6 linked regions of the Homo sapiens genome follow. The protein of the gene in region 4 purifies or fractionates together with the protein of the main gene of each other region. This does not show direct contact. Each region holds a gene or a part of one and is shown on either strand. Other genes may lie near its edges. The genes, in order: ZBTB44, SHCBP1, ZMYM1, PSG9, CELSR3 and CCDC85C.

Region 1 (4,761 bases), on a different chromosome or scaffold from region 4:
GTACATGGGTTCTCATTGTTTAACTCCCACTTATTAGTAAGAACATGTGGTGTTTGGTTTTCTGTTCTTGTGATAGTTTGCGGAGAATGATGGTTTCCAGCTTCATCCATGTCCCTGCAAAGGACATGAACTCATTCTTTTTTATGGCTGCATAGTATTTCATGGTGTACATGTGCCACATTTTCTTTATCCAATCTATTATTGACAGGGATTTGGGTTGGTTCCAAGTCTTTGCTATTGTGAATAGTGCCGCAGTAAACATATGTGCGCATGTGTCTTTATAGTAGAAAGATTTATAATCCTTTGGGTGTATACCCAGTAATGGGATGGCTGGGTCGAATGGTATTTCTGTTTCTAGATTCATGAGGAATCGCCACACTGTCTTCCACAATGGTTGAACTAGTTTACAGTCCCACCAACAGTGTAAAAGCATTTCCTATTTCTCCACATCCTCAACAGCATCTGTTGTTTCCAGACTTTTTAATGATCACCATTCTAACTGGTGTGAGATGGTATCTCATTAAATTTCCATATGAAATTTAAAGGAGTTTTTTCCAATTCCGTGAAGAAAGTCAATGGTAACTTGATGGGGATAGCACTGAATCTATAAATTACTTTGGGCAATATGGCCATTTTCACGATATTGATTCTTCCTATCCATGAGCATGGAATGTCTTCCCATTTATTTGTGTCCTCTCTTATTTTCTTGAGCAGTGGTTTGTAGTTCTTGAAGAGGTCTTTCACATCCCTTGTAAGTTATATTCCTAGGTATTTTATTCTCTTTGTAGTAATTGTGAATGGGAGTTCACTCGTGATTTGGCTCTCTGTTACTGGTGCACAGGAATGCTTGTGATTTTTTATCACAAAGTGTTCAGGAATAAAAGTCCAGGGCTGGTACAGTGAATCTGCAATATAATCAGTGGCCTAGGCAACTTGTATATTTATAAACTGCCATCTTTACTTTGTTGGTTTCATCCATAAGATGCTCATTTCATCTTCAGCTTTGTATTCTAGAAAGGGGCAATGCTTTGTATCAAGAAAGCACCTATGTTCTCAGAAATCCCTAAAAAACTTCTGCTAGTCTGTGTCACATAGTCTTTCCTAGCTGCAAGGGAATCTGGGAAGATAATGTATATTAGTTGGGTACCTAAATGCCTTGAACAAAATTAGAGCAAAATGGATATTGAGTATGCAACTAGCAGTGTCTGCCACAAGTAGGCCAAGTAAGCTTGGATTTTATCTTAGTGGTAGGTAGTAAGGAGTCTACATTAAAGGGATAAAAACAAAAACATGCAGATATTTTAGGAAAACTGTTATTGACATGCAGTGAGTTTGGTTTTACAGAGACAGTCTCAGAGACCAATTGCAGTGCACTTATCTTGGTGTGAATGAAGACTTAAAACCATGTGAAAGAAAATAGATATTACAAGACTTTGTAAAGAAAGACTTAGTACCTGATGATACTGAATATGTATATTGAAAGAACAGGAGAGGTTAAAGTACTCTGATGACTAGGAAATAATGGTAACACTTTATTATATTCCATTGATTCTAAGTCACAATTTTTCATATTTTGTTATTTCTGAATCCAGATATGTCTTACAGTTGGCAGTCTTCTACAGTTGCTTTTTTCTTCCTTAGTGCTATAGAGAATAATGGCAATCATATGAATCAATAGCATTTTAGCATCTATTAAATGTAGTTAGTGCCGTATGAAAATCAGTGGAAGGTGGTGGGAATCCAGTTTTGAGAGTAAATTATCAAGGTCACTTCTGTGTAAATTGTGCTTGGATGATGATCAAGCAGTGTCATTTCAAAAGCAGTAGAAAAGATAAGTGAGATTCCCAACTTGGGACTTTTCTACTAGTAGTGGCAAATTCAATCTCAATAGGAAAAACAGAAGAGCCAAAACCAAGGGGATACCTTGGGGAATACCTATATTCAGGTTTGGGAAGGGATAGAAGAAAAGCCACTAGTGAATAATAAAGATTTGTCCAAAATATTGGAGAACCGGGAAGACCATATTAACTTTGTTAGTTTCTTGTGCTTTTACCCTCTGTGTGAGTTTCCCTGGGCTGCTGCAACAAAGTACCGCAAACTGAATGGTTTAAAAAAAATTTATTCTCTCATAGTCAGAGGCCAGAAATCTGAACGACAGGTGTTAGTTCCCTTTGAAGGATCTTTCTCTCTTTGAAGATTGTAGGGAAGAATCCTTCCTTGTCTCTTCCAGCCTGTGGCAGCTGCCCACAATCCTTGGTGTTCTTTGGCTTGTAGCTCCAGTATATGATATTGTGCTTTAGTATATGCGTTCGTCTTCACATGACCTTCCCTGTCTCTCTGTTTTGCCACTGGCTTCAAATCTCTCTCTCCCTAAAAGGACACCAGTCATTGGATTCAGGTCCCACCCTAATCCAGCATGACCTCATCTTAACTTGATTACATCTGCTAAGACCCTATTTCCAAATAAGGTCACATACATTGGTAGCAAGGATTAAGATGTACTTTTTCTTTTTTTTTTTTTTTTTTTTTAAGATCTGGGATGCATGTGCTGAACATGCAAGTTGTGTTTTTGGGTATTTTATTTTCTTTGTAGCAATTATGAATGGAAGTTCACTCATGATTTGGCTCTCTGCTTGTCTATTACTGGTGTATAGGAACGCTTGTGATTTTTGCACATTGATTTTGTATCCCGAGACTTTGCTGAAGTTGTTTATCAGCTTGAGTTTTGGGGCAGAGACAGTGGGGTTTTCTAAATATACAATTATGTCATCTGCAAACAGAGACAATTTGACCTTCTCTCTTCTTATTTGAATACCCTTGACTTCCTCTCTTCCTATTTGAATACTCTTTCTTTCTCTTGCCTGATTGCTCTGGCCAGAACTTCCAGTACTGTGTTGAATAGGGGTGGTGAGAGAGAGCATCCTTGTCTTGTGCCGGTTTTCAAAGGGAATGCTTTCTGCTTTTACTCATTCGGTATGATACTGTCTATGGATTTGTCATAAATAGCTCTTAATATTTTGAGATATGTTCCATCAATACCTAGTTTATTCAGAGTTTTTAGCATGAAGGGGTGTTGAATTTTTATTTTTAATTTTTATTTATTTATTTATTTTTGAGACGGAGTCTCACTCTGTCACCAGGCTGGAGTGCAGTGGTGTGATCTCAGCTCATTCAAGCAATTCTTCTGCCTCAGCCTCCTGAGTAGCTGGGACTACAGACGCATGCCACCACACCCAGCTAATTTTTGTATTTTTAGTAGAGATGGGATTTCACCATGTTGGCCAGGATGGTCTCGATCTCTTGACCTCGTGATCCGCCTGCCTCGGCGTCCCAAAATGCTGGGATTACAGGCGTGAGCCACCACGCCCAGCCAGGGTGTTGAATTTTATTGAAGGCCTTTTCTGCGTCTATTGAGATAATCGTGGTTTTTGTCATTGGTTCTGTTTTACGTGATGGATTACGTTTATTGATCTGCGTGTGTTGAACCAGCCTTGCGTTCCAGGGATGAAGCCAACTCGATCCTGGTGGATAAGCTTTTTGATATTCTGCTGGATTCAGTTTGTCAGTATTTTATTGAGGACTTTCACATCAATGTTCATCAGGTATATTGGCCTGGTATTTTCTTTTTTTGTGTTGTGCCTCTGCCAGGTTTTGGAATCAGGATGTTGCTGACCTCATAAAATGAGTTAGGGAGGAGTCCCTCTTTTTCTGTTGTTAGGAATGGTACCAGCTTCTCTTCGTACCTTTGGTAGAATTCAGCTGTGAATCTGTCTGGTGAATCTGTCTGGTGCTGGGCTTTTTTTGGTTGGTAGGCTATTTCAGGAGAGTTTATAGCATGAAGGGGTGTTTTTTTTTTTTTTTTTTTTTTTGAGGTTTTGCCTCAACTTTAGAATTTGTTATTGGTCTATTCAGGGATTCAGCTTCTTCCTAGTTTAGTCTTGGGAGGGTGTATATGTCCAGGAATTTTCGTCTAGATTTTCTAGTTTATTTGCGAAGAGGTGTTTATAGTATTCCCTGATGGTAGTTTGTATTTCTGTGGGATCAATAATGACATCCCTTTTATCATTTTTTATTGTGTCTATTTGATTATTCTCTCTCTTCTTTATTAATCTGGTTAGCAGTCTGTCTATTTTGTTAATCTTTTCAAAACACCACCTCCTGGATTCATTAGTTTTTTGAAGGGCTTTTCGTGTGTCTCTTTCGGTTCTGCTCTGTTCTTAGTTATTTCTTGTCTTCTGCTAGCTTTTGAATTTGTTTGCTCTTGCTTCTCTAGTTCTTTTAATTGTGATGTTAAGGTATAGATTTTACATCTTTCCCACTTTCTGATGTGAGCATTTAGTGCTATAAATTTCCCTCTCAACTGTGCTTTAGCATGTCCCGGAGATTCTGGTACCTTGTCTCTTTGTTCTCATTGGTTTCAGAGAACTTCGTTATTTCTGCCTTAATTTCGTTATTTACCCAGTGGTCATGCAGGAGCAGGTTGTTTAGTTTCCATGTAGTTGTGCAGTTTTGAATGAGTTTCTTTTATTATTATATTATTATTTACTATACTTTAAGTTCTAGGGAACATGTGCACAACGTGCAGATTTGTTACATATGTATACATGTGCCATGTTGGTGTGCTGCACCTATTAACTCGTCATTTACATTAGGTATATCTCCTAATGCTATCCCTTCCCCCTCCCCCCGCCCCACAACAGGCCCCAGTGTGTGATGTTCCCCTTCCTGTGTCCAAGTGTTCTCATTGTTCAATTCCCATCT
Region 2 (4,761 bases), on a different chromosome or scaffold from region 4:
GATCCGCCCACCTTGGCCTCCCAGAGTGCTACAATTACAGGTGCACCCAGTCCCCATGGGTCATTTAACATGTACTTTATGTTATTTCTAGTAAACTGACAGTAAGATCTACAGACCTGCAGGCCTTCAGGAAGGATTTTTTGCAAGAATACTTCAAGGGAGGTGTAATGTACTTCAGTCAAGAAGCAGGAAGAGCAGAGCCTCATTCCTGGCCAAAGCCACTGTCTGTGTGGAGTATGTACATTTTTCCCATGTCCGCATGGGTTTTCTCCAGGTACTCTGATTTCCTCCCACATCCCAAAGATGCGCACATGAGGTGAATTCTGTGTCTACCTTGTCCCAGTCTGAGTGTGGGTGTGTGAGTGCACTCTGTGATGAAATGGGCTCCTGTCCACAGCTGGTTCCTGCCTTGCACCCTGAACTACGGGAATAGGCTTTGGCCACCTGCAACCCTGAACTGGAATAAGCAGGTTGGAAAGTGAATGAATACAAATTACTGTCAAACAAAAATTCATAAAGTATACAATAATCATACAAATGCACAACAATGAATGCTGTGGCATGAAATCGCTCAGTGAGCCCACTATGTTTGTCATTGTTTTGAAGTGGGTGATGGCAGGAGGTGCTCCTTATAATTTCCGCTTTGCAAACATTTATTCCTTGATTTACTCGTCACCACAATGACCACTGTCACTCACTGTTTCACCAAAAATTGGAAATTGGGTCAATAATTATCTTGTTTGCATTAATATTTCTTAATGTATATATAGTTCACATTTATTTCAATGTTTAAGATTAGAATTGTTTGGGGTCTTTATTTAGAAGTTTGATGATGTTTTCATGACCAGAAATATGCTGTAGAAACTTTAACTTTTGTTTATATCAGTCAGCCTATGGTAAAATTGGTTTCATTAACATCACAGTTTCTAAGAACCTACCAACAACAGTAACTGAGGACTTTATTACAATGCCTGGCCATGTCTTTTTGTGAGGTTCAGATTGATCAACAGATACAGGTTGTCAACCTGATCCACCCTCTATAAAGTTCTCTTTCCCTAATGGTTGCAGCAGTCATCGATGTTCACTGTCTAGAACCTTTATTTCATTAGTGGTTACAAAATACTGATATTCTATCACTTTCTTCATGTATTGGTTGGAATACTTTTATAAAGAAATTCCTCAGGTGATTCCAAAGTGGTTCCAAGGTTGATTAGGGAAAAAACAGTAGATGGCCTAGGACTGATCCCTGGGTAACTCTGACATTCTAAAGTTTGAGCATGAGAGGAAAAGCTGGCCAAGATGACTGAGAAAGCAAGCCAGTAAGACACCAGCTGAACAGTGGTGTCCCAGAAGCTGAGAGGAGAGGGTGTGAAGAAGATGGGAATGATCAAATACCTAGAATGTCAAGACGTTAAGCAAGATGAGATCAGAGGCAGGATGAGATCAGTGAAACGTTGACTGAATACAAGAACATGGAAGTCTTTGAGCATAATTTCAGAGATGAGGTCAGGGTAGAAGAGTTACTGAGACACCAGGAAGTATAGACTGTGATTATATATAACTCTTTCAAGAAGTTCTGCTGTGAAAAGGAAGCACTGAAAATGAAACCAGCCATCTCCTAATTATTGTAGATTGGGCTGTTAGTCCCTTCACCCTCTAGTGGAGTCTTTTGTTGTTGTTGTTGTTGTTGTTGTAATGAACTTAAGCATGCCTCTACTCGATTGAAAAAACCTCTGCTGGCTCCCTTTTAGCCCTCAAAAAGAAGTCCTGAACGTGGTACTATAAATAGATTCATAATCTGGCCCTATTGCGCCTCTCCTGCCTCAGAGCCGTTGTACCTAAACTCTCAATTTCACAAGCTCTTTCAAACCTCCATGTAACTTGTTAGTCAAGCTGCCAGAAGTGCCTTCCACCTTTTCCACCTGGTAAGCTTATAGTTCTATTCCATGACTCGGCTCCAATATCATCCTCACCAGTACCATGCCAAGCATTTACACATCATTCCCTTCTGTACCTCCCGCAGTGTTGATTCTTTCAAGCCAGAAATGTGGAAGTCAGCCTTGACTTCTCTCACCTCACTTACATCTTCTCATCTCTGATATCCACTCGACCACCAAGTCCAGCCATTGTACTTTCTCAGTAAGCCTCCATCCGTCCTCTCTATATCCCCACTCTAGTCCTCTCTCTTGCGTCTTAACTGGTCTACCAATTCCATCTCCCACCATTTGTTTTCTACACAGAAGCCACAATGAACCCCTGAAAACACAAAGCAGCACTTTAGGGGACTGAGGTGGGAGGACTGCTTGAGCCCAGGAGTTCGAGACCAGCTTGGGCAACACAACGAGACCCCCATCTCTACAGAAAAATGTTGTTAAAAAACTAGCTGGCTAGTGGTGGCACATGCCTATAATCCCAGCTGATCCAGAGGCTGAGGCAAGAGGATGCCTTGAGCCCCACAGTTCGAGCCTGCATTGAATCACATGATTGCACCACTGTACTCCAGCCTAGGCAACAGAATAATACCGTGTTTCCAAAAAAACAAAAACACAAAACACAAAACTAGTCATATTCACCCAAGAATAAAAATCCTTCAGTGGCTTCCCACTGCTCTTAAAGACAAAAATGACTAACCAGCTAACAAATCCCCGCACTGTCTGGCCCCTGCCAGCCTCTCTAATCTCATTTCCTAGGTCTCTCTCAGCACTGTCTGTGTTCCAGCCATGCTGGCCTTTCAGCTCCTTAAACACACTGAGCTCCCAAATCTTTTCCCTTCCCCACCCCTGCCTCCCCTTTCACACAGCTAACCCAAGTTCAAATGTCATTATTCCAGTAAATAACCCTAGAACAGCAACTTGACCTAATTTTAGGACACTCTGTAATTCATCACAGCACTCACTGCTATTTCCAATCATGCAGACATCTGTGCGTGATTATTTCATCAAGGCTCATCTCCCACCTTTAGACTGACAGCTCCCTGATGATGGTGTGTCTCATGCACCAGACATACCCCATCCTTGACTAAGGACCTGGCACTCAAATATTCATTGAATCAACGAACAAATGAAATCCCTCATAATTTGACCTTCACTGGGCACTGATCCAAATCTCAGCCCTCCAAATGAAGTGTAAATTTAACCAGGCTCCTCCTCAAATAATACTACCAAATAACATTCCAGATACTTATTTTTCCACGAACTTCTATGCCCATAGAGATTAGCTCCCTGATTCCTAATTTCCTAAACTTATCAGTTATCACTTTATCTTCAAATGCTTCAATTGACAGATTTTTTTTAATGAGAAAAATAGAAGGGAGTTATTTTGGTTCTGGACAGAAACCGGTTCTTTAGATTCATTCTGCTTGGCCCAATACTGAACATCTAGGGTTAAATGTTCTTGCATACAATTAGAAACTGTCCGTAAGATGTTGGCAGCAGGGCCTGAAACACTCTGCTTCTTTGCAGAGCATTCGAGTTAAGCTCAGCAAAACCACGTTAACTCACTAATGGTATAGAAAATAGAAAGTACTTTTTATACTACAAAACACCAAGCAATGTTATTTACATTATGGTCATTATATATTGCTCAGTCTTCTAGTTCCTGAAGGAATATGGGTCTATTTTTAAATAGCTACAAGTAAGCCTTCTTTGGCGAAGATACAAAATAACTATCTATATCAGGAACTATCCAATAAAAGATTGATCTGAAAAATTGTTGAAATCATACCCACTGATCCAGGTATGGGCTTTCTTTCCCAAGGAAGGGACAAGGGGTCCACTTGTGCAGTGGAAATAACTATGGCAAAAAAGACTCACAGGCAGGAATACATCCCCTAAGGATCCTAGAAGCAGCCTAAGAAAACACTTGCTTTGACCAGACATATGCTTGAAAAAAATGTGTATTCGTCTTTTAGCAGTACACACACCATAGTATATAACCTTCTTCACTGTCTTTCTCTTCTTCTACTTTCTGTACTCTTGTATTGAAATATACCGACCATAAGCCTTAACATCCACAACTTTTAAGTCAGTTTATAAATATATACAAACCCAATTAAGAATCCCCTACTTTTGTTAACATTTGTGAAAACCAAGTAAAAGATAAACAGGAATTCTTTATACACTTGACCCTTGAAGAACACAGGTCTGAATTTTGTGGGGTCCACTGATAATTTACACTGAGTGTGCCAGCATCTCCTGCCTCCCTTTCCACCTCTCCTCCACCTGTTTTGCCTCTGCCGCCCCTGAGGCAGCAAGACCAATCCCTCTTCTTCCTCTTCCTCCTCTGGTGAAGATGATGAGGATAAAGACCTTTATGATGATCCACTTCCACTTAATGAGTAGTAAATACATTTTCTCTTCCTTATGAATTTCTTAACATTTCCTTTTTTCTAGCACTTTATTATAAGATAATACACATAACATAGAAAATATGTCCTAATCAACTATTTATGTTAATGGTAAGGCTTCTTTTCTGGTCAACAGTAAGTTATTAGTAGTTAAGTTTTGGGGGAGTCAAATGTTATACTCAGATTTTTGACTATGTAGGGGTGGGGGGAGATAGGCACCCCTAACCCCCACATCATTCAAGAGTCAACTATACTAGTTTTGTCAGCTTTTCTATAAGTTTGAAATTATCATAAAATGATTTAAAACATTTTTAGACCAGGTGCACGGTGGGTCACACCTGTAATCCCAGCACTTTGGGAGGCCAAGGCAGGTGGATCACCTGAGGTCAAGAGTTCGAGACTGACCTGGCCAACAT
Region 3 (4,761 bases), on a different chromosome or scaffold from region 4:
TTCAAAGGGATCTTCCATTTGGTCCATGAAATAGAATAAAAAGTGCATTGACTCAAAACAGATATTAAATCATTCCTATAAAAGAAATCTTAAAAAGTAACTAAAAATCAGGCAGGGCGTGGTGGCTCATACCTATAATCCCAGCACTTTGGGAGGCCGAGGAAAGCAGATCACCTGAGGTCCGGAGTTCGAGACCAGCCTGGCCAACATGGCGAAACTGCATCTCTACTGAAAATAAAAAAACTAGCTGGGCACAGTGGCACACGCCTGTAATCCCAGCTACTTGGGAGGCTGAGGCAGGAGAATTGCTTGAACCCAGGAGGTGGAGGTTGCAGTAAGCCAAGATTGCACCATTGCACTCTGGCCTGGGTGACAGATTGAGACGAGACTCCGTCTCAGACAAAACAAAACAAAACAAACAAACAAACAAAACTGAAAATCAGCACGGTGGCTCACACCTGTAATCCCGGCACTTTGGGAGACCAAGGCAGGAGGATCACTTGAACTCAGGAGTTTAAGATCAGCCTGGGAAACATAGTGACTCTGTCTCTGCAAAAATAAATAAATAAGTAACTGAAAATTATTTTCAGTTCAGGATAGTTTCACTGGAAGATAAAAAAACCCCAGAAGAATAGCTAAAATTTATGTAAAAGGCTAATTAATGTGGAATTTTTAAGTTTTGAAAAAAGCAGCCTACTCTGAATCATGGATGGCCTTTTCCAGCCTAAAATTTACTACCATCTTTCTACCCACTACAATATAATATTTTTTATAAAAAAATTTTATTCTAGAGGAAGTAAAACTTATCTCAGATTTTTACTCATATTGGATTTCCATGCCTAGGAGAACTTACACACTAAATCTTTCCTGCTTCAGCCTTTTTCAATCTGTCTGGGACATCTGCTGAAGATGTGTAGTGAGTCTCTAAGGTCCCTTCCAGTTTTATGACTCTGCAGGGAGAGAAAGCAGGCTGAAGAGAGTACTATATGGCCCATAGCAAAAAAGTAAAAAGACAAAAGACTAGTATAGTATTGAAGGGTTGAAAAGCAAAAGAGAATGGTAAGTAACGTGCCATGGAATAAGACCTGAAGCAACAGATAATAACTGAAGCAGCAGCCAGAGGAGCTGAAGCAAACCCATCAAAAGGGTTTGTGAGTTTGTTAAGAGAATAATAATAGTTAACATTTATTGAGTTCTTACTACATGCTGGTATTGTTCTGACCACTTAAATATACTATTTAATGCTCATAATTCTTTTGTACATTTATCAAAAACAGATACGAATACTAAGTAACAAAGAAGTTCTCAATACTGCTCCAACTTTAGCATGTATAGGAATCACATGGCGATAAATGCAGTTCTGAATCAGCAGGTCTGGGTAAGACCTGAGAAAGTGCATTTCTTTTTTTTTCTTTTTGAGACAGTCAGTGCAGTGGCCTGATCTCAGCTTACTGCAACTTTAGCCTCCCGGGTTCAAGCAATTGTCCTGCTTCAGCCTCCCAAGTAGCTGGGATTACAGGTGCATGCCACAGTGCTCAGCTAATTTTTTTGTATTTTAGTAGAGACAGGGTTTCACTGTGTTGCCAGGCTGGTCTCAAACTCCTGAGCTCAGGCATTCTGCCCACCTCGGCCTCCCTAAGTGCTAGGATAACAGGCGTGAGCCACTGCTCCCAGCCTGAGAAAGTGCATTTCTAACAAACTCTTGGGTGATGCTGATCTAGCAACTCAGGGATGAAACTTTGAGTAGTAAAATATAACTAAACAGAAGAAGCAAAATTCAAATTATGGCAACCTGAGTCCAAAACAAGTATTATTTGAAAGAAATTTGTTATATTTAGAAGCACTGTGGTTGCCTATGGATTTTCTTGTTCTGAACAAGAACATTTAAAAATTAGCATATCCTAAGTGCTAACAACCATAATTATACAGCCTTAGGACTCTCAAAGCCAAAATGACACTGATTCTTCACACATTCTCACATAAATTTTTAAAAGATTACATAGAGACATGTAGGTTTATCTATGGCCATCAATTTTTCAAAAGAATCACTTCATTTACCATTATAAAAGAAATATAATATTATTCCACATCTTGGAAAATCCAAACTAACTGTCATAGGATTAATTTTTTAGTAGGTTGCTCCCTATACAGTTAAATAGAACAGAATGGATAAACAATAATCCCATTTACAGAGAATTTCAAATGAAAAGAGTAAAGGTGAAGAGAAACAGTACTTTTCACATTAATTTCTGCAAAAAAAAATATTTCTACAGAATCCATCAGAGGAACTAAAAGTAGAAAAAACTTCTTTTTACTAAACCAAGACGACACGTCTTCAAAAGAAATGAAAATGGCCGGGCGCAGTGACTCACACCTGTAATCCCAGCACTTTGGGAGGCCAAGGCAAGCGGATCACCTGAGGTCAGGAGTTCAAGACCAGCGTGGCCAACATGGCGAACGAAACCCCATCTCTACTAAAAAATACAAAATTAGCCGGGCGTGGTGGTGCATGGCTGTAATCCCAGCTACTTGGGAGGCTGAGGCAGGAGAATCGCTTGAACCCAGGAGGTGGAAGTTGCAGTGAGCCGAGATCGTGCCACTGCACTCCAGCCTGGGCAACAAGAGTCAAACTCAGTCTCAAAAAATAAAAAAAGAAAATGTAGAAATTACAACTAAGACTATGATCAAGAACAAGGTAGGGAAATAAAAGGGGGCATAATTTAGAATTATATACTTTGAGCAGTTTGAACAAGTTCTCTTAGAAGGAACTGGTGAACTGGCAGATGAAATGTATTCAGTGATGCATGGTATGGAGCAGAAAAGTTGAGCAGATCCTTTCCTCTGATAAGCAGTTTGCCCCTTCTGGAGAATTTTTTTACAACCAGCACAGGAAACCTGAATAGCTGTGGTTGAAACTGAAGGAAGCATTTTATTCACGCCAGATGATGCCAGAGAAAGCTGAATGCCTGCAGTCAACTGTGAAGCTATAAAAACACAAGAGGGAGAAAAAAAAATTGTTATTTACACAAAATTAAGTAGGCATTCCTTTATTTTCTTTCTTTCTTTTTTTAGAGACAGGGTCTTGTTCTGTTGCCCTCTTTTGCACTCTAGGCAGTGTAGTGATACGATCATGGCTCACTGCAGCCTTGACACCCTGTACTCAAGTGACCCTCTCACCACCTGGTGCGGTGGCTCACGCCTGTAATCCCAGCACTTTGGGAGGCCAAGGCAGGTGGATCACCTGAGGTCAGAGTTCAAGACCAGCTTGGCCAACATGGTGAAACCCCATCTCAATTAAAAATACAAAATTAGCCAGGTGTGGTGGCTAACGCCTGTAATCCCAGCATTTTGGGAGGCAAGGTGGGTGGATCACGAGTTTAAGAGATTGAGACCATCCCGGGCAATATGGTGAAACCCCGTCTCTACTATAAAAATTAGCTGGGCATGGTGACACATGCCTGTAGTCCCAGCTACTCGGGAGGCTGAGGCAGGAGAATCGCTTGAACCTGAGAGGTGGAGGCTGCAGTGAGGCGAGATCATGCACTGCCCTCCAGCCTGGCAACAGAGCGAGAGCGAGACTCCGTCTCAAAACAAACAAAATTATCTGGGTGTGGTGGCACGGGCCTGTGATCCTAGTTACTTGGGAGGCTGAGGCAGGAGCACTGCTTGAACCTGGGTGGCAGAGGTTGCAGTGAGCCAAGATCGTGCCATTGCACTCCAGCCTGGGCAACAAGAGCGGAAACTCCATCTCAGAAAAAAAAAAAAAACCTCCCGCCTCAGCCTCCCAAGTAGCTGGGACTATAGGCATGCACCACCACACCTGGTTTTTAAATTTTCTGTAGAGACAGGATCTCGCTATGTTGCCCAGGCTGGTCTCAAACTCCTGCCCTCAAGCTGATCCTTCCACCTTGGCCTCCCAAAATGTTGGGATTACAGGCATGAGGCACCATGCCCAGCCTCTTTGATTTTCTTCTCTTTTTTTTTTTTTTTAGACAGAGTCTCGCTCTGTTGCCCAGGCTGGAGTGCAGTGGTGCAATCTTGGCTCACCACAACCTCTGCCTCCCAGGTTCAAGCAAATCTCCTGCCTCAGCCTCCTGAGTAGCTGGGATTACAGGCATGCGCCACCACGCCTGGCTAATTTTGTATTTGTAGTAGAGACAGGGTTTCACTATGTTGGCCAAACTGGTCTCGAATTCCTGACCTCATGATCCGCCTGCCTCGGCCTCCCAAAGTGCTGGGATTACAGGTGTGAGCCACTGTGCACGGCCTCTCTTTCATTTTCTTACAGGTTACTTCTCCTGGACTTAAAACCCAACACAAACAAAGCAATATTCAAAGGCATTAAAAAAGAATGAATCAGCTGTCGTATTGGTCTGAATAAACATAACTAACTTAAATAATTCTATTACCACTCTCTGAAAACACAGCATTTATTTTCAGTTCATTCTCCTGAGTTCTGGACTGTTGCCTATGACAATACTCCTAAAAAGAAAAAAAAAATAATAATTAAAAATAGTGAATACAATGAATTTAAGACAACCAGTCATTCAACAGAAAATGATAAATTGTGGTCAAGTCTGGTCAATGAATTGTATAACTGAATTGAACCAAAATACACAGGTATGCACTACCCTTTTGGTGCTCTTTGGCTGACAACACTAATCACCCAATACATTATTTTCTATGGTATCCAGGTGTGACATCAAAATCTTTGTCAACAAAATCCCTCCATTCACTATCAATAGGGAGCAGACATATTGA
Region 4 (5,473 bases):
GGTTTTGGATCATTCATTTCTTCATTCAAGTTCTTCATTCATTATGTGAGAGCTCCTGAGTGTGTGTCTCTCGCTGGGCCTGTGCTGGTGTAGGGTGTGAGTGGGGAAAGAAAACAAGGTCCTCTCCTTGATCCTCTCATGACAGTGACATGGACACTTTGGGAAACACAGGATTTCACGTTCAGTGATGGGGGTTAAGATCTGAGGGGGAGGCCTGGACATATTTTTTGCACTGACTCTGATGGTTGAGGCAGGTGATTTAGTTCTGGAATACAGACTAATCAGCTGACCATTTGCTCTCACTCCTCTGAGGTTTGGATGCCTAAGAAGAGAGGATTTGAGCCAATAAATGACTATGGGGTCCTTGGAACCCAGTAAGCCCTCACTTCTGGTGGAGGAGAGGATAGGCCTGTGGCTGCAGACAGACCTCATGTGACCCTGATCTCCCCTTTGTGTTTGTGTGACTCTGGTTCAGTGACTGCACCTTCCTGTGCCTCAGTTTTCTCTCAATCAAATAAACTAAATGGCAAATGGACTGTGGCTTTTCATGCTATCTGTGAATAAATGTTAAATGATTCACAGTCACCTGACCTAATGCTTGGCACAGTGGAGGTTTCACACAAGCAGCATTTATTATTAATTTGCTTCCATGAGAAAGCACCTTATGTCAGATCCCTGTGGACAAGCTGCTACCAGGTACATCTTCTCCCTTCTGTTTCTGCTTCTGGGGACATTAGACTTTCTATGGACTGTCCTAAGCCTCCCAAGGCAGTTGGCTGATGTCCTACAAAGCTTGTCTTTCTGTCCTCTCCACTCTGAGTGTCAGCTGAAAAAGCTCTGTCCTTGCCCAGATGAGACTCTGAGGGCTGAGCCCTGGCTGGTGAACAGCTCCAGGAGACACAGTCCTCAGACAGCTGGTAAATTCTTGGTCCCAGTAAGGCCTGCCCAAGAAGCCACAACCCAGCACTGGCACAGGCTCCTCAGCTTAACTGGAGCAAGGATTTAGGGACAGGGGTCTGGGGTTGAGGCTTCTAGGGCTGAGCTTCTCTGAGAGTATCTCAGGGGTCCCCTCAAGCCAAGCCCTACTCAGTTCTCCAGGGTCTTTCTCAGGGTCAAATTTATGAAGAGGGCATGATGTGCTTGGCTGAGACTGATCTCCTCCTGCTGAGTCCCCCCATCAGACTGTCCTTCCTCTGCAGCGAGTGTCTGCAGGGTCTGGATGCGGGAAAGGAATTCTGATCTGTTGAAATTTGTCTCCTCTGTGTGTGTCCTGCACTAAATGCCCAAACCCCAGCATGGGACATAATGCAGAGAGTGACACAGGCAGAGTCCAGGCCTGACAATCCTGTGTGTGTGAAGTAGAAATGACCCCTTCCCCCCAACACCCAGGGATCATGTGGAATCACTCACAGTATAAGGTGAAGGTGAAATGTCGAATTTCTTCTCTAGTCTCATCACCTCGCTTTATGATGTGTAAGGTGTAGGTTCCTGCATCCTTCCGGGTGACATTCTGGATCAGCAGGGATGCGTTGGAATATACTGTTTCTCTTCCACTGTATGCAGGCCCATATATAATTATTTTACCATCAACTATATACGATATAATGTAATGGTAGAGGTCCGTCATTTCCCCTTTGTACCAGAAGTAGCCAGGAAGATTCTGGGGCAAATTGTGGACAAGTAGAAGAACATCCTTCCCCTCAGAAACTTTGGGTGGCTGGGCTTCAATCGTGACTTCGGCAGTGGTGGGCGGGTTCCAGAAGTTTAAAAGTGATGCTAGGAGGGGGAGACAGCATCAGTTAATATTGAGACCTATGTATTGTGGTGAAAAGATGGGGCCCTGGGTCCTGAGAAGGTCTCTTCCATCCTCAGCCTTGAAGATACACACACGCACACATACAAACAAACACACACAAAAAACGGGCATGTGTGTTTGTGTATGTGTATGTGTGTGTGTCCTACTGTCCTACTAGGTCAAGGTCAGCAGCATGACCCCCATTCCTTCAACACTTCTGACCTTGGCATTTTTCTGTTTGGAATCCTCTTCCCCAGGGGTCCACACGGCCCCCTCCACACTGCCCTCAGGTCCTGCTCACATCAGGGCATCCTTAGACTTCTTTCCTGACACCTCCTTCAGAGACCCTGGGTCTTCCCTTTCTGACCTTTCCCTGCTCTGCTCCCTCCAGGGTTCTTGTCAACACCTGATCTCACATTCTACATCTCTTCGCATGTCTGTCTTCCTCCCCATGACAGCGTGAGCTCCGTGAGGACAGGGACTTTTGTGATCCTGGTTGCACCCCAGTGCCTGGGACAGGCTGCAGACTCCTGTAGATGTGAGAGTTCTCAGGGCCCTCCATGCCCTGGGTGTTTTTTTTTCCCCCAATTGTTGAGGTTTTTTGCTGAGGATAGTGTTTCATGTCCTGCTTATATTTTTATTTGAAGTGTCATCTGATATAGTTATTATTATCATTTTTCAAAATGTGGTGGCCCCGGATGATTAATCAGGAAAACAGAACACTTAAGATTTTCCTACCTCTTACCAATTCCGGTTCAATGTGACTTTCCTCTTTTGACCCCTGTCCCTCTCTGGTGTATTTTCCCCTATCCAGGCTGCAACAGAGCCTTCTTTCCTTTTTTTCTTTTTTTTTTGAGACGGAGTCTCGTACTGTCGCCCAGGCTGGCGTGCAGTGGCGGTATCTCGGCTAGCTGCAACTTCTGCCTCCCGGGTTCACATGATTCTCCCACCTCAGCCTCCCGAGTAGCTAGGATTACAGGAGTACACCACCATACCTGGTTAATTTTTTATATTTTTAGGAGAGACTGGGCTTCACTGCATTGGCCGGACTGATCTTGAACTCCTGATCTCGTGATCCACCCACCTCAGCCTCCCTAAGAGCTGGCTTCTTTTATTTTACAACCCCATCCTCTCCAGGAGACCCCATCCAGTCACTCCGCTTCCTCCCCCTGTCCTCTCCCAGGAAGTTCTCTCCTCACCTGTGAGCAGGAGCCCCTTCCAGGTGATGCGCTGTGTGCAGGAAGGGGCTGGGAGGGGCCCCATGGTCTCTGCTGCCTGTGTGTTCTCCTCTGTGGAGATGAGCCTGGGATCCAGAAGCTGTCTGAGCACGGCTGTCAGCTGTGCTGTCCTTCCTCCTTCTGTGCTGAGCCTCTTCCCGGGGCAGGAGCACTTCTCAAGCTCATGGGCGGGGTCAGTCCCAGGACACCTCTCTGTCCCCTTCTCTCTCAGTCCTGCCTCCTTGTCCCTCCTTCTGTTTTTCCTTTTGTCTGTGTTTCAGGTCCCTGGGAGTTGTGGAGGCCTCTGCCTTTTTCAGCAGTGATTCTTTCACCAAACCTCAACACACACTTTGTGCAGACACACACACACACACACACACACACACACACACACAGAAGAGACACACACAGACCCACACAGTCAGGCACATACCCTGCAGGTTGGGCAAGCACAGTCCTGGGCCTCAGCCTCCTGCTGTCCCCATGGCTCTGGGTTGGGGTGCACATTCATGCCTTTTACCCTCTTTCATCCCCATCTGGCTCTCCCCTTCAGTGCAGGAGGCTGGAGATGCACCAGGTCCCTGTCACAGTGACACCCCATTGTGCTGTGGGTGAGCTGTGTGTTGCCTGGTGAGAGGGACCCTTCCTTTCTCTAATCGTGTCAAGCTTGACTGCAGCTTCCAAGGATGGACTTTCAGGACCTGGGTGTCCCAGAGGAAACTGTCCTTCCTGGAGGTGTGCAGGGTGAATCTCTCATGCCTCTTAGGAGGAGAGGCCTGTGCTGGTTGCTCAGTGGGGGCTGTGAGTCCCATAGTCAAAGGGACAGTTCTCTGTCAGTCTATGGCTCCCTGGGGTCTGGCGGCTGAGCTGGAGCTCAGGGTTTCTCATGTTCTCCCTGACCATCTTTGATGTCCTCTCTTCTCTGCCCAGCTGATTGTCCTGTGGTCACCACACCTTCCCCGTGGTGGTGCAGGAGGAAGTGGGGAGTTACCCAGGAACCCCGCGGGACATGGCTCATTGAGACGCAGGAGGGGGAGCCTGGGACAGAGCAGGGGTTCAGAGCTGGAGAGATTCATCCCGACTTACTCCGTGGCCATGATGGGCTCAGCCCTCCATGTGCTGACACACCCAGGGGTCTGTCCTGAGGGTTTTGACCTGGCCAAGCTGCTGTCTGTAGAGGAGGAACAGGCAGTGACCAGAGAGGCTCTCTGGAGGGACGTTGCTCACACCTGAGAGGGCGGGTGGGGGTGAGTTGTGTTCTGGGAGCAAAGAGCAATAACACCGCCCTTCTCCACGCAAGTACACAGGAGAGGTCTGTCTTCCCAAGGGACAGCTGGGGGTAGGTGGCCACATCCCGGATGGTACCTGTGAATGACCATCACACGCTCTCTGAGCCCCCTGGGGTGCAGGGGGCAGGCAGGTGACAGGGTGCCTGGCTGATTCCCGGGGAGGCTGTGGGCCCTCAGGCAGCCGCTGTTCTGTGTCGGCGCTAGGCTTGGCCTGGGAAGCCCCAGAGAACAGGACAGATGGAGCAGGGGCAGGCATTTAGGGAGCAGTGACAGAAAGAGTTGATGAGGATGGAGAGAGTTCACGAGGGGAAAGCGCCCAGTGTGGCGTCGCGTGCACCAGCGCTGCCCTGGGAGATGCCTTTAGCTGGGCCCAGGGAAGGAGCAGGTGTGTGGGGCAGGAGCTCCCTGCAGAGGGAGTGGTGTTAGGTTGGCGGCCGCCAGGTCAGGGAGGAACTGACAGAGTCCGTGTGGGGAGCATGGAGGGTGCTGAGGACTTGGGCCGAAGTGACCCTGGTGAGGGTGGACCCTGCTGGGCTGTGGGTTCCGCTGAGGGAGGTTGGCATCCCCTGGGAAGGCTCCAGGCTGGGAGGGACTCTGTCGCCCTCTGGTGGACAGGGAGGGAAGTGTGAACGGCAGCAATCCCAGGCCAGGCTGCATGTTTTATTCCACTTCACACGAGGTCACACATATGTTATGTTACAGCTCCTTCACCTTCCAGCCCCGTGAGTCCCAGTCTCTGTGGCTCTACGTTCACTGTTATCCCTCTTTCACAATCAGATGTCCCAAACGCAGATTTTTGTCACCTTCTGTGAGTTTGTGTTTGTGTGCAGTAGGCAACACTGTGAATACCCTGGGGGCAGTGATGCCTGGGGCTGAGCACTGCACATGGGTTTGAGAGCAGAAGAGGGAGCAGCAGGGTGGGAAGATCAACGTCAGGGGGGCAAGGACAAGTCATTTTCATTTTCTCACTCCCAGGGACCAGAACCCAGGATTCTGACTCCAGGGCACAGTACCACACCCTGCTGGTGTCCCTGGATGTCATGATGCTCATAGTGTCATGTTGCCTTGGCATTCATTTTTTAAGGTGTAAGTTTATTTGCCTCAAATCAGAGGCAGGGCTTGGTCACCATGGTAGTTTTCAATACTGTGTCTGGTTCAAGTGGCTCCAGTTG
Region 5 (5,403 bases), on a different chromosome or scaffold from region 4:
CGGAGTGGGGGCACACCTCTGTCCACTGCGTAGGCAGTCAACTCATACACTGATACTGCCTCCCGGTCTAGCCGCCTTACTGTACGGACAATTCCAGAGGTGGGCTCAATGGTAAAATCTCCATCCCCATCTTCACCATTCTGGAAAGTGTACTGGACCCGGCCATTGGCATGAGCATCCCGGTCAGTGGCTGAGATCTGCAGGACACTGGTGAAAGGTGGGGCATCCTCAGAGACCAGCCCTGTATAGTGGGAGGCCACAAATTGTGGAGCATTGTCATTCACGTCATTGACCATCACCTCCACATAAGTAGTGTCTGCCTTCTGTGGGATGCCATTGTCCCGAGCTGTGATAGCCAGGGTGTAGGTCACCTGGTCCTCATAGTCTAATGGGGCCTGTAATGTAATGGCTCCTGAGTCTGCATCAATGCGGAACTGGGGCAGGTTGTCCTCCAGGAGATAGGTGATACGAGCATTCTCACCCACGTCATCATCAGAGGCACTGATGACCACTATGGTGCTACCCATTGGCCGATCTTCATTCACACTCACTGAGTAGTGGGCACTTTGAAAGACCGGCCGATGAGTGTTGGCATCTGTGATGTTGATGTGCACATAGCAGTGATCATGAAGGGCACGGTCAGATGCAGTTAGTACCAGCTTGAAGTAGCGTTCCTGCTTGTAGTCCAGTGGCAGAGCCAGAGTCACCAGACCCACACCCCCCTGGGTGCTGATGGCAAAGCGATTCCGGGTGTTGCCGCCTGTGATCTGGTAGCTGATGGCACTGTTGGCATCACGGTCTACTGCGGTCACGCTGACCACACTGGTGCCCACAGCTGCATCCTCATTCAGTCGTAGGTGGTACTCCTTCATTGTGAACTCAGGCCGATTGTCATTAACGTCCAGCACAGTCACGGTGACACTGGCTGAGGCAGAGAGTGGGGGTGAGCCATGGTCTCGAGCCTCCACACCAAAGAAGTAATGCTCCACAGACTCACGGTCCAGGGGACCACTCACAGAGACCCAGCCAGTGGCGCTGTTTATCACAAAAGGAGTATCAGGTGCCACACCAGTTAGGGAGTACTCCAATCTGGCATTCTCCCCATGGTCTGCATCGACTGCCTGAATGTGGATGACTGAGTGACCCAAGGGAGCATTTTCCAAGACAGAAACTTGGAAGGGCGTGCTGACAAAAATAGGAATGTGGTCATTGATGTCCACCACCTGGATGCTGGCCAGGCCCGTGTTGTTGGACAGCGGTGGCCGGCCAGCATCCTGCGCCCTGATGCGCAAGGCATACTCTCTCTCTGCCTCGAAGTCCAGAGGTGCCACCACCTGGATCTCGCCAGTGAGGCTGTCGATGGCAAAGTGTCCACGGCTATTGCCACTGATGATGTTGTAGTGCACCAATCCGTTGGCGTCCTTGTCCCGGTCAGTGGCCGTGACGCGCAGCACGACTGTGTGGGGGCGCACATCCTCGCGCACCTGCGCCACGTAGCGCTTCTCGCTGAACTGAGGAGCATTGTCGTTCTCGTCTAGCACAGTTATGTGTACGCGCACAGTGGCCGAGCGCGGCCCGGGTTCCTGGCCCTGGTCGCTGGCTTCCACCACCAGCTCATAGCTTTCCATGTGCTCGCGGTCCACTCGGCCGCTGGTGCTGATGAGGCCGGAGCGTGGATCAATCTCGAAGGCGGCGGCAGCTGCAGCGCGCGCAGCTGGCGGCCCCACGAAGCGGTAGCGCAGGTTGGCGTTGGGGGGCGCGTCGCCGTCAGTGGCACGCAGCTGCAGGATAGGGTAGCCCTCCTCCACATTCTCGCGAAGGGTCTCCCGGTACTGCGCTTGCTCAAAAACCGGCGAGTGGTCGTTGCGGTCGGCTACTGTCACGGCCACCATCGTGGTGGCCGAGAGGCGCGGCGACCCGTGGTCCTGCGCGGTCACACGCAGGTAGTGACGCTCCATGCTCTCGCGGTCCAGAGCTGCCGCCGTACGGATAAGGCCGCTCTGCGGGTCGATGCTGAACAGCTCCAGCGAGCGGCTGTTCATGAGTGCCGCCAGCGAGTAGACTAGGCGCCCGGCCTCGCCGGCGTCCGGGTCCTGAGCAACCACGCGTAGCACCGCGGTGCCTGCTGCCTCATTCTCCGGCACCAGCGTCTGGTAGTTGTACTGCGGAAACTGCGGGTGGCGGTTTGCGGCGCGACGAAAGCGTGCCCGGTTCGCCGAGGTTACTTTCCTGGCTTCAGGACGGGCCGGGAGTCCCGGGGGACGCGGCCCGGGGCGCTGCGGGAGGAAGCGGCAGCGGAAGAGACCCCGGGAGCGCATGCGCTTGGGCGCCGGCTCGGGAGCTGTCCGAGACTCGCGGGGTGCTGAACCTGATGCAGGAGCTGTCCTCGCCGTGCGTGGTGCTGAATCCAGCTCGGGGCCAGATCCCGAGGCCCCTGGAAGACAGTTCCGCCGGGGGGCTGTCCTTTCTGCTCCGGATGTCGTGGCTCTCTCGCCCTGACCCTTGCTCCCTGTTGCCCATAATTCCCCACAGCAGCGCGCGGTGCCCACTCTTTTGCGGGAGCCTGTCCCAGCGTTCCGCTGGGAGGACACCGGCTTGGGACCGTGGTGCCGAATCAAAAAGTCTGAAGGGAGGGGCGAGCTGTTCCCCGAGCCCGGGACCCCTGAGGACAGAGCCCCTGGTGACAGACTACCTCTTTGCAAAGGTCCTGTCCGCCCGCAAGAGGAGACCTCTGGGCGCCAGTATAACACAGACCCTGGTCCCTGTCCTGTCTCTCGTTCGCGGCTGCCCAATGGCTGGACGCCGTGTTCAATCCCCAGCTCCTCATTCGGCTGCTCAGGGGGCCCTCGACTATTCCGGGCGCTTTGCCTTCTCCCTCGGAGCCCCACGAAGATAGGCTCCCTGACCCCCAGGCCAGGCCCCCCATCCTCCCGGACCCCGGAAGACTCCGGACAAAGAGCTAAGGCTCCGCCACCGATATGCGCCCTTGGCCCCGTAGTGGCAGCTAAGCCTGGGTCCCAGCCCTGGTGCCCACCGCCCCCCAGCTCCTCCTGGCTGAGGGGGAACAAAGAGAGGAGAAGGAGCAGGAGTATGGGGGTCGACCGTCCCCCGAGGCCCCGCCACGGCGGCCGCCTCGCCATCATCCCCCGCCTCCCTGCACGGCCTCCACCGCCCCCCGCCCCGGTCCGGGCCTTGGGCTGGCCCCGCCGCTCGGGCCCCCTCCCGGGCCCCTGCCGCCGCCCCGGGCCCCCGCCCCTCCGCCTGTCTCTCCGCACCCCCGCCGCCCTCTGGGCACCATCTACTCCGCGGCCGGAGCCCCTCCGGCGTGCGGCCCTGGCTTTTTCCGCCCCCACCACAGCATCCCCGACGCTGCTGCCGCCTCCCGCCGCTCCAACATGGCTCCCGGCCGCCCCGATGGTTCGCTCCACCTCTGCCCCGGCGCCCGAAACACGGTGGTACAACCCATCGCGCATGGCAGCTCTGAGGACCGAAGATGTTGCCGCCATCTTTATTGAGGACGTGAGCGTTGCTCCTGGTGCTGAACAGAGCGCGAAGGTTCGCCGTCGTTGGGTCCGCCCTCCCCACTTTCGGTCGCCGCCTTCACCCACCTCCCTCCTTCTAGGGCGCTGTCCCAGCTCCGTCTCCCAGCCTTTTTCTGTCCTTCCAGATCTCTTGTTCCCCCTTCCTGACCACTAGTTCTGAACCGTGTCCCGGATTTTGGTCTGAAATTTTGGTGCCCATGAGCGTTCTCATAGCTCTGGGAGGGGGTACTGTGTGAAATCCTGGGGTAGAGGGGACGATGGCTGGAGAGGGGTCTGGGGTGCCAGCACCCCGAACAATAGCTTTAACTATCCCATCAGCTAGTTTTATGAAACATGTCGCGACCACCTGCTTGTTTGGATCGCCCCTGCGGAGCAGGGACCAGAGATGACCCTCCCGAGGCGGGAGCAGAGGCCAAATTCTTCCCTGCCTTGCTGGTCCCCAGCAGTCTCCCGGGCTCGGGGCCCCTTCACTGGAGGCTGCACCCCCTCCCAGGCTGCGAGTCCCGAGTGCTCTGGGATGCCACGTGGAGCCCGGCGTTGCCCCATGGCTGCGGGCCCCGCTTCTTCGGGTCCCCGCCCCTCGTCCGTCACGACCGCATGCCTTAACCCCTTGAAGGGACTGACACAGAAACTCAGTCCTCCCCCCACCCTCGGTGCATTCCAGCTCTCCCTGCGTAACTCCTGGCACGCGCCGGTCTCGCCAGGCCAATGGGTGGACCTGGCGCAACAGACGTCACGAGAGGAGCGGAGGCGAGGGGTGAACGCGGAGCACTCCAATCGGTCAGTCATTGTTTCTATTGGCACAATGGGAGGCCCCGCCCCTCACGGCGGACTCATCGCATGGGGGAGGGGGCTCCGCGGGTTGCCGGCTAACCGTGAGAGAGTCCGGGAGGTACACTATACGGACCGGCCTCCAAAGGCGGAATCGATAACGAGCTGCAGCGCCGGGTGCAGAGGACGCGGGCATCCCGAAGCCCAGGAAGAGGTCAGGGCCGGGACCCCAGAACGCTCCACAGGGTGCGGCTCCCGCGATGGGGTGGATCCTGGTTCTAACAGGCGAGGAACTCCTGGCCAAGGCCTCTGGCCCGCCCCGAACGGTCCCTATGACATCACCATCAACCAATCAGTCGGCGCATCCTTTCGCCCCTTGACTGCTCCGCTTCCGGGAGGCGGGGCTTCTGCGGGTTCCACCTCCCGAGCGCCCCTTGTGGCTACCAAGGTCAGGCAACAGGTGTCCAGTTGTTCCCTCTCCTGTCTACGAATCTGAGGACCTCCCCAGGATCAGAGCTCTGGGCCTGATACACGGCCGGGGTTCCTACGGGTTTGTGAGTGGGGGTGGAAGATCTGCAGAGGCACTTAGGGCTGAACTCCTTTGAATGGGAGCCAATCGGTGCAGGGGCTGGAGGAGCGAGTCCCCCAAAGTAGTTTTATTTATCTATTTAGAGACAAGGTCTCACTCTTTCGGAGTGCAGTGGTGATCACAGCTCACCGTAGCCTCGAACTCCCCAGGCGATTCTCTCACCTCAGCCTCCCGAGTAGCTGGGACTACGGGTACATGTCATCACACTTGGCTAATTTTTGCATTTTTTATAGAGACAGGGTCTCACCATGTAGGCCAGATTAGTCTTGAACTCCTGGGCTCAAGCAATCCGCCCATCTTGGCCTCCCAAAGTGCTGGGATTATAGGTGTGAGCCACCGCGCCCGGCAACCCAGAAGTGGTTTTGACAGCACCAGCGCTTTCTGTGTCCACAATCTAGTGAGTAGAGGGCACAAAACCTGACACCACGGAGGCAGACAGGCAGGGGCTCTGCCGGGGAAGGGTGTTGGAGTCCCAAAGGAGGCGTCTGAGTCACCTTCGCA
Region 6 (4,761 bases), on a different chromosome or scaffold from region 4:
CACCAGAGTGATGCTCCAGAACCACCACCCCCCAAGCCAGACTCCAAGAATCACTGCTCAGGAGGCACTCAGACCTCAGAGGCAGTAAATGCTCAGTGAAGTCCGCAGACGCTTCCCTTCCTCCTGAAGAGCAAATTACCACCTGTGAGGTCAAGTCCCGCTTCCCACCTGGCTCTGGGTTCAACCAGATTGGATTGAACACACACATTCAAAGCTGGGCATTTTCCCTTCCCAGTTGTAATGTGGGGCGTGTCTTAGAACCCACATCTCAACCAGATTCCCAGAGCTGTCTGGGGTGTCCACAAGCCCCATCCTCAGTGGATTCAGGAATGCCCCTTCTCAGTGTCCACGCAACCTCCCCTGACACAGCGCTCCCCAGCCCTGGAGGCAACACAGGCCACCTGGGCCACTCTTGCTTGTGGGCACTGAAGTCTGAAAAGCTGGGACTTTGGGGTCTGCCCTGTGGGGCTGCCCACAGCACTAACCCCCCTAAGAGTTATCTCCCCACACACATCCTGGGTCCACCTTGCAGGCCCCGGATTCTCAATGCCATGCTCCAGACCCCACTTCCAAACCTTAGCCATTCTTATTCCTGCCTGGAATGCTGGCTCCCTCCATTCAACTAGATGAGGACTCAGCTGCCTCCGACCCTACACTGGGTACCAGCGTGTGTCAGGGGATCTCCCACTCCCACCCAGGGAAGGCAAATCCGCAGAGGCCAGGAAATAATGAAAGGACATGGAACCCATCCTTTAAGGCCCAGTTCTAGGATCGAGACATTATTAGCCTCAGGATATAGATGAAGAAACTGAGGCTTAGAGGTTCAGTAAGCTGCCACGGCCATAAAGCAGGTGGCAAAGCCAAGATTCACCCAGGGCTCTCTGACCCTGGAGGCAGATCACTAACCAGAGGGCTACATGCCCCTCGGCATGCGGGGTGCCGAGCGCTGCAGCGGGAGATGGGGCCTTCGCACATCAGGGGCTGCCACCCGCCAGAGGCTACACGTATCACTCACTACACACCCTCCTCCCTCAACCCAAAGGTTAGTAACATTTTCCCACTTGGCAAAAGAGAAAACAGAGGCCCATGGAGGCTCAGGAACTTGCTTAACAGACTTCCAATTCTCTGCGCAAATGAAGGCAACAAGCATGGATTGGAAAATCCCCACCGGCGGAAAACAGATTAGGAGCAACCACTGATTTCCTTCTGTATCACGTGCTGGTCCTGGGAACTCAGAGGCCAGGCCTGAGCAAGAGGTCTGGTGGGGCGACTGCTGCGGTGGCAAGCCAGCCTCGTGCAGAGAAGTGAGGGAAGGAGAAACCAAGAGATGGGGAGCCACAGCCATCGTAGGGAAGGTGGCCCACCCTGCACCGCCTTCCCCCACTCCTCCATGCCAGGACACAGGGAGACAGGAATGAGGCCCCGGGCCTGGCATCCTGGGAGGAGGTGCCCTGTCTCTGTGGCAGAGGTCACCGCTCCCCTGGAACTCTCTGGGCAGCAGGCACAGGGCCATGGGCTCAGAATTCTGACACAGGAGACCCAAGACGCATCCCAGGCCCCCCAATCAGCCCCACAGGACCTAGAGCAAGTCACCGCACCACCACTCCAAGCCCTGATTTCCCCATCTAAGATATGGAGATGCTAAGGTCTCCCTCCTGGGACCATTTGGAAGCTCTGAACAGAATGGAATTGGGACTGGGATGCTGTTTGTGGCAAACTGTGAAGCACTGGGCACAGTTTACCCACCCCTGGGTCACCTGCCTGGGAGCCTCTCAAGGCCAGCCCTCCTTTCTGAGGCCCAGCATCCCAAGGCCATTGATGGATCCCTTGGGACAGGCTGGGGAAGGAGGGGGAAAGGCTTATCTAACCCACCCCATTGTCTTCACTGACCTTTGTTCCTGAGCTTGGCTGGGTTTAGGAAAAGCAGCCTTATTAGCCGAGCTGCTGCACAGAAAAGACCTATTCAGAGTTAGCGTGCTCTGTCTTTTTCTAAAGGCCCAGACCACCCCGTTCCATCCTCCCTCTTAAACCAACAAAAACACAAGCAGGAGAACAAACCTGTCTCATTTTGAGAAGCTCAAAATTTTAATCCGAACTTTAAAAAGTAAATGGGGCTCATGCACAGGCTTGCTAGAATCCTAGTTCCTCCAGGTTGGCTAAAGGGGAGTGGACCGTGGAGGAGCAGGTTATCAGGGGAGGGAAGGAAATGCCTGGCAATGGGCAGGAGGGGGGCATGGTGCCTGTCGTGGGGCACAGGAGACAGGCGGAGGGGCAGCTGGAAAAAGAACTGAAAATTCTTTTGTTTGAAAATCCTATCAGTTCATGAAGGAGAACCTGACTTTCTGGTGTTGGGGTTTACCTGTCTCAGTGTGCCACACTGGACTAGAGCAACGCACAGCCCAGTCCCAAGTCCAGTCAGCCCAGACCAGACCTCTACCAAAGGCAGCCAAGGCCAGGTGCAGTGGCTCACGTCTGTAATCCCAACACTTTGGGAGGCCAAGGCAGGAGGACTGCTTGAACCCAGGTGTTCGAGACCAGCCTGGGCAACATAGTGAGATCCAGTCTCTACAAAAAATTCAAAAATTATCTGGGCATGGTAGCACACATCCCAGGAGGCCGAGGCAAGAGGATTACTTGAGCCCAGGAGGTTGAGGTTGCCGCGAGCCATGATGGTGCCATTGCACTCTAGCCTGGGTGACCAGAGAGACCCTGTCTCTAAATAAATAATAAATAAATAAATAAGCAGCCAAGGAGAAAAGCCTATTTGCATGTACATACACAATACACAGGCCCACCAGGCCAGCCTCAGCCAGGGCTGCCTTGCATACAGATGGGCCACCTCCCACCTCAGCCACTAGAGTCTGCCCAGGGCACCCAGCAGGGCTGCAACTGCCACCAGCTCCCCAGAAAGGACAGCAGGGCCACTGTCCTCACTAGCTCATCAGCAAGTGCTGCCACACAAGAGGCTCAGATGCAAACATTCAGGTGAGCTGTCTAAGCAGCAAGCACTTTTGAAGAGGAAACTGAGGTCTGTTGGGAGAGCCCCAAGGACCCTAACAACAGGAGAAACCTACTGTGTGTAGATCCTGACCTCACTCAACCTTGTGTGAATAATGGGGCACTCTGGGTTCTGTCCATCTTACAGAAGAGGAGCACAGAGAGGCTTGGCCAGTTAATAACTTGCCCAGTATACATGGAGGAGCTGAGATTCAAACTCAAGTCACCCTGAGCCTCTGGGTAACGGGGTTATCAGCCATCTGCTCAATGGTCACTGATAAGGAAGTGACACTTCCCAGCATGGGAGAAAGAGGGCAAACCTGGGTCAGGAATCAAGAATAGGGAGTCACCAGTGTCCCCTGATTAACAGTAACAGCAAACATGACAACAGACCAAGGGCACAACAGATTCAGACCCAAGGCCTGAACACGAGATGATCATGGCAGCAAACCCACCCAGGACAGGTACTTCCAATGTCAGCCACCTTCCCAGACAAGGCTAGGAACCCCTCTAAGCCTCCACTTGCTTGTCTGTCAAATGGGGATAATACTGCTTCCCCAGGGTTCCTGTGAGAAGAAGCAAAGACCAAACACATAAGGCGCAAGCCTGGTGTCTGACCCCACTTTAGACACCACCCAGACAGAGACTCATTATCTCCCTCAGCTCAGGCCCAATCTTTGCTCAATTTAAAGTTACAAGTCCCAGAATAGAAAAGCCCAGTTTCACCAGGTGAGGTGGCTCATGGCTCTAATCACAGCTACTTGGGAGGCTGAGCTGGGAGGATCACTTAAGCCTGGGAGGTTGAGGCTGTAGTGAGCCATGAGTGTTCCATTGCACTCTAGCCTGGGTGACAGAGTGACACCCTGTCTCGAAAAAAGGGAAAAAAGAAAGAAAGAACAGCTCAGTTTCTAAGAGAAGGGCCTTTCCTGGTTTCCAAGCCTTCCATTTACATTAGTGGGACCACATCCCAAGGCCACACATGGCTTTAAGAGACAAAACTAAATAATAATAATTCCATCTGTAACCGAAATTTGTAATAATAATGCTGAATTTTCATTTCACCCCAAAGCAAGGTTTGCTGCCACAACATTTGCAGCAGTCCTGTGCTAAGTGGGCTTGGGGGAGGATGGGTTCTGTGGGAAACCCTATACTTCAACCTCCCACTGACCCCCAGTGGGGTGGAAAACTCAGTGTAGCCTAGTCCTCCACTCCTGTATTATTCACTGTCGCAGCTGACATGCTGAGCCAGACTGGGGCCGCATCTCCTTGCCCAAAACTCGACAGAGCCTTTCCTGCAAGTATGCTCTAAACACTCCAGCCCTCCAGTGTCCTGCAGAGAGGCACTCTTGCCAAGTGTCATTGATGACGCAGCTGAAAACCAGAAACATTTCACTTTCCAGCCACGAGACTGCAGCAATCTGCTCTTTGGACTGCACTTAGGGAAACCGAGGCCCAGATAACTGACCCCTCAAAAGCCCCCAGGACGGCAAAATCAAAGGGGCTGAGGTGCTCTGAACAGCCCCAGCAAATTAAACCACCTAACTTTGCGCTACTCCCACTGCCCTGAAGCAGCCTGTGGTGGGAGGTGGGGGTGGATACAGTGTTACAAAGAGAAACCTGAGTTGTAGCCATAGATTGCTAATCAGTAACAAAATATCCCTCTAAACCCAGTCCTGCCTTGAACCCACAGGCTCAGGATGGTAAATAAAGGAAAAACATGCTGCACTGCCCCTGCCCCACCTCCATGGGTATGTCTCCCACCCC

Evidence for each region.
Region 1: the proteins of PSG9 (region 4) and ZBTB44 purify together in Homo sapiens (affinity purification with mass spectrometry; 3 studies listed by BioGRID and IntAct, with this or other methods). This does not show direct contact.
Region 2: the proteins of PSG9 (region 4) and SHCBP1 purify together in Homo sapiens (affinity purification with mass spectrometry; 3 studies listed by BioGRID and IntAct, with this or other methods). This does not show direct contact.
Region 3: the proteins of PSG9 (region 4) and ZMYM1 purify together in Homo sapiens (affinity purification with mass spectrometry; 3 studies listed by BioGRID and IntAct, with this or other methods). This does not show direct contact.
Region 5: the proteins of PSG9 (region 4) and CELSR3 purify together in Homo sapiens (affinity purification with mass spectrometry; 3 studies listed by BioGRID and IntAct, with this or other methods). This does not show direct contact.
Region 6: the proteins of PSG9 (region 4) and CCDC85C purify together in Homo sapiens (affinity purification with mass spectrometry; 3 studies listed by BioGRID and IntAct, with this or other methods). This does not show direct contact.

What each region holds. Positions count from the first base shown.
Region 1 is NC_000011.10:130,255,007-130,259,767, reverse strand, and holds part of ZBTB44 (zinc finger and BTB domain-containing protein 44), read left to right. Parts: intron 1-4,761. UniProt on the Homo sapiens protein: May be involved in transcriptional regulation.
Region 2 is NC_000016.10:46,610,797-46,615,557, forward strand, and holds part of SHCBP1 (SHC SH2 domain-binding protein 1), read right to left. Parts: intron 1-4,761. UniProt on the Homo sapiens protein: May play a role in signaling pathways governing cellular proliferation, cell growth and differentiation. May be a component of a novel signaling pathway downstream of Shc. Acts as a positive regulator of FGF signaling in neural progenitor cells.
Region 3 is NC_000001.11:35,095,540-35,100,300, reverse strand, and holds part of ZMYM1 (zinc finger MYM-type protein 1), read right to left. Parts: intron 4,483-4,761; coding exon 4,410-4,482; intron 2,985-4,409; coding exon 2,735-2,984; exon of another isoform or gene 854-2,734; intron 481-853; exon of another isoform or gene 459-480; intron 1-458.
Region 4 is NC_000019.10:43,266,374-43,271,846, forward strand, and holds the start of PSG9 (pregnancy-specific beta-1-glycoprotein 9 isoform 1 precursor), read right to left. Parts: upstream 3,158-5,473; 5' UTR 3,059-3,157; coding exon 2,995-3,058; intron 1,777-2,994; coding exon 1,411-1,776; intron 1-1,410. UniProt on the Homo sapiens protein: Binds to the small latent transforming growth factor-beta complex, consisting of the N-terminal TGFB1 latency-associated peptide (LAP) and the mature form of TGFB1, thereby leading to the activation of TGFB1.
Region 5 is NC_000003.12:48,659,492-48,664,894, forward strand, and holds the start of CELSR3 (cadherin EGF LAG seven-pass G-type receptor 3 precursor), read right to left. Parts: upstream 3,396-5,403; 5' UTR 3,144-3,395; coding exon 1-3,143. UniProt on the Homo sapiens protein: Receptor that may have an important role in cell/cell signaling during nervous system formation.
Region 6 is NC_000014.9:99,597,158-99,601,918, forward strand, and holds part of CCDC85C (coiled-coil domain-containing protein 85C), read right to left. Parts: intron 1-4,761. UniProt on the Homo sapiens protein: May play a role in cell-cell adhesion and epithelium development through its interaction with proteins of the beta-catenin family. May play an important role in cortical development, especially in the maintenance of radial glia.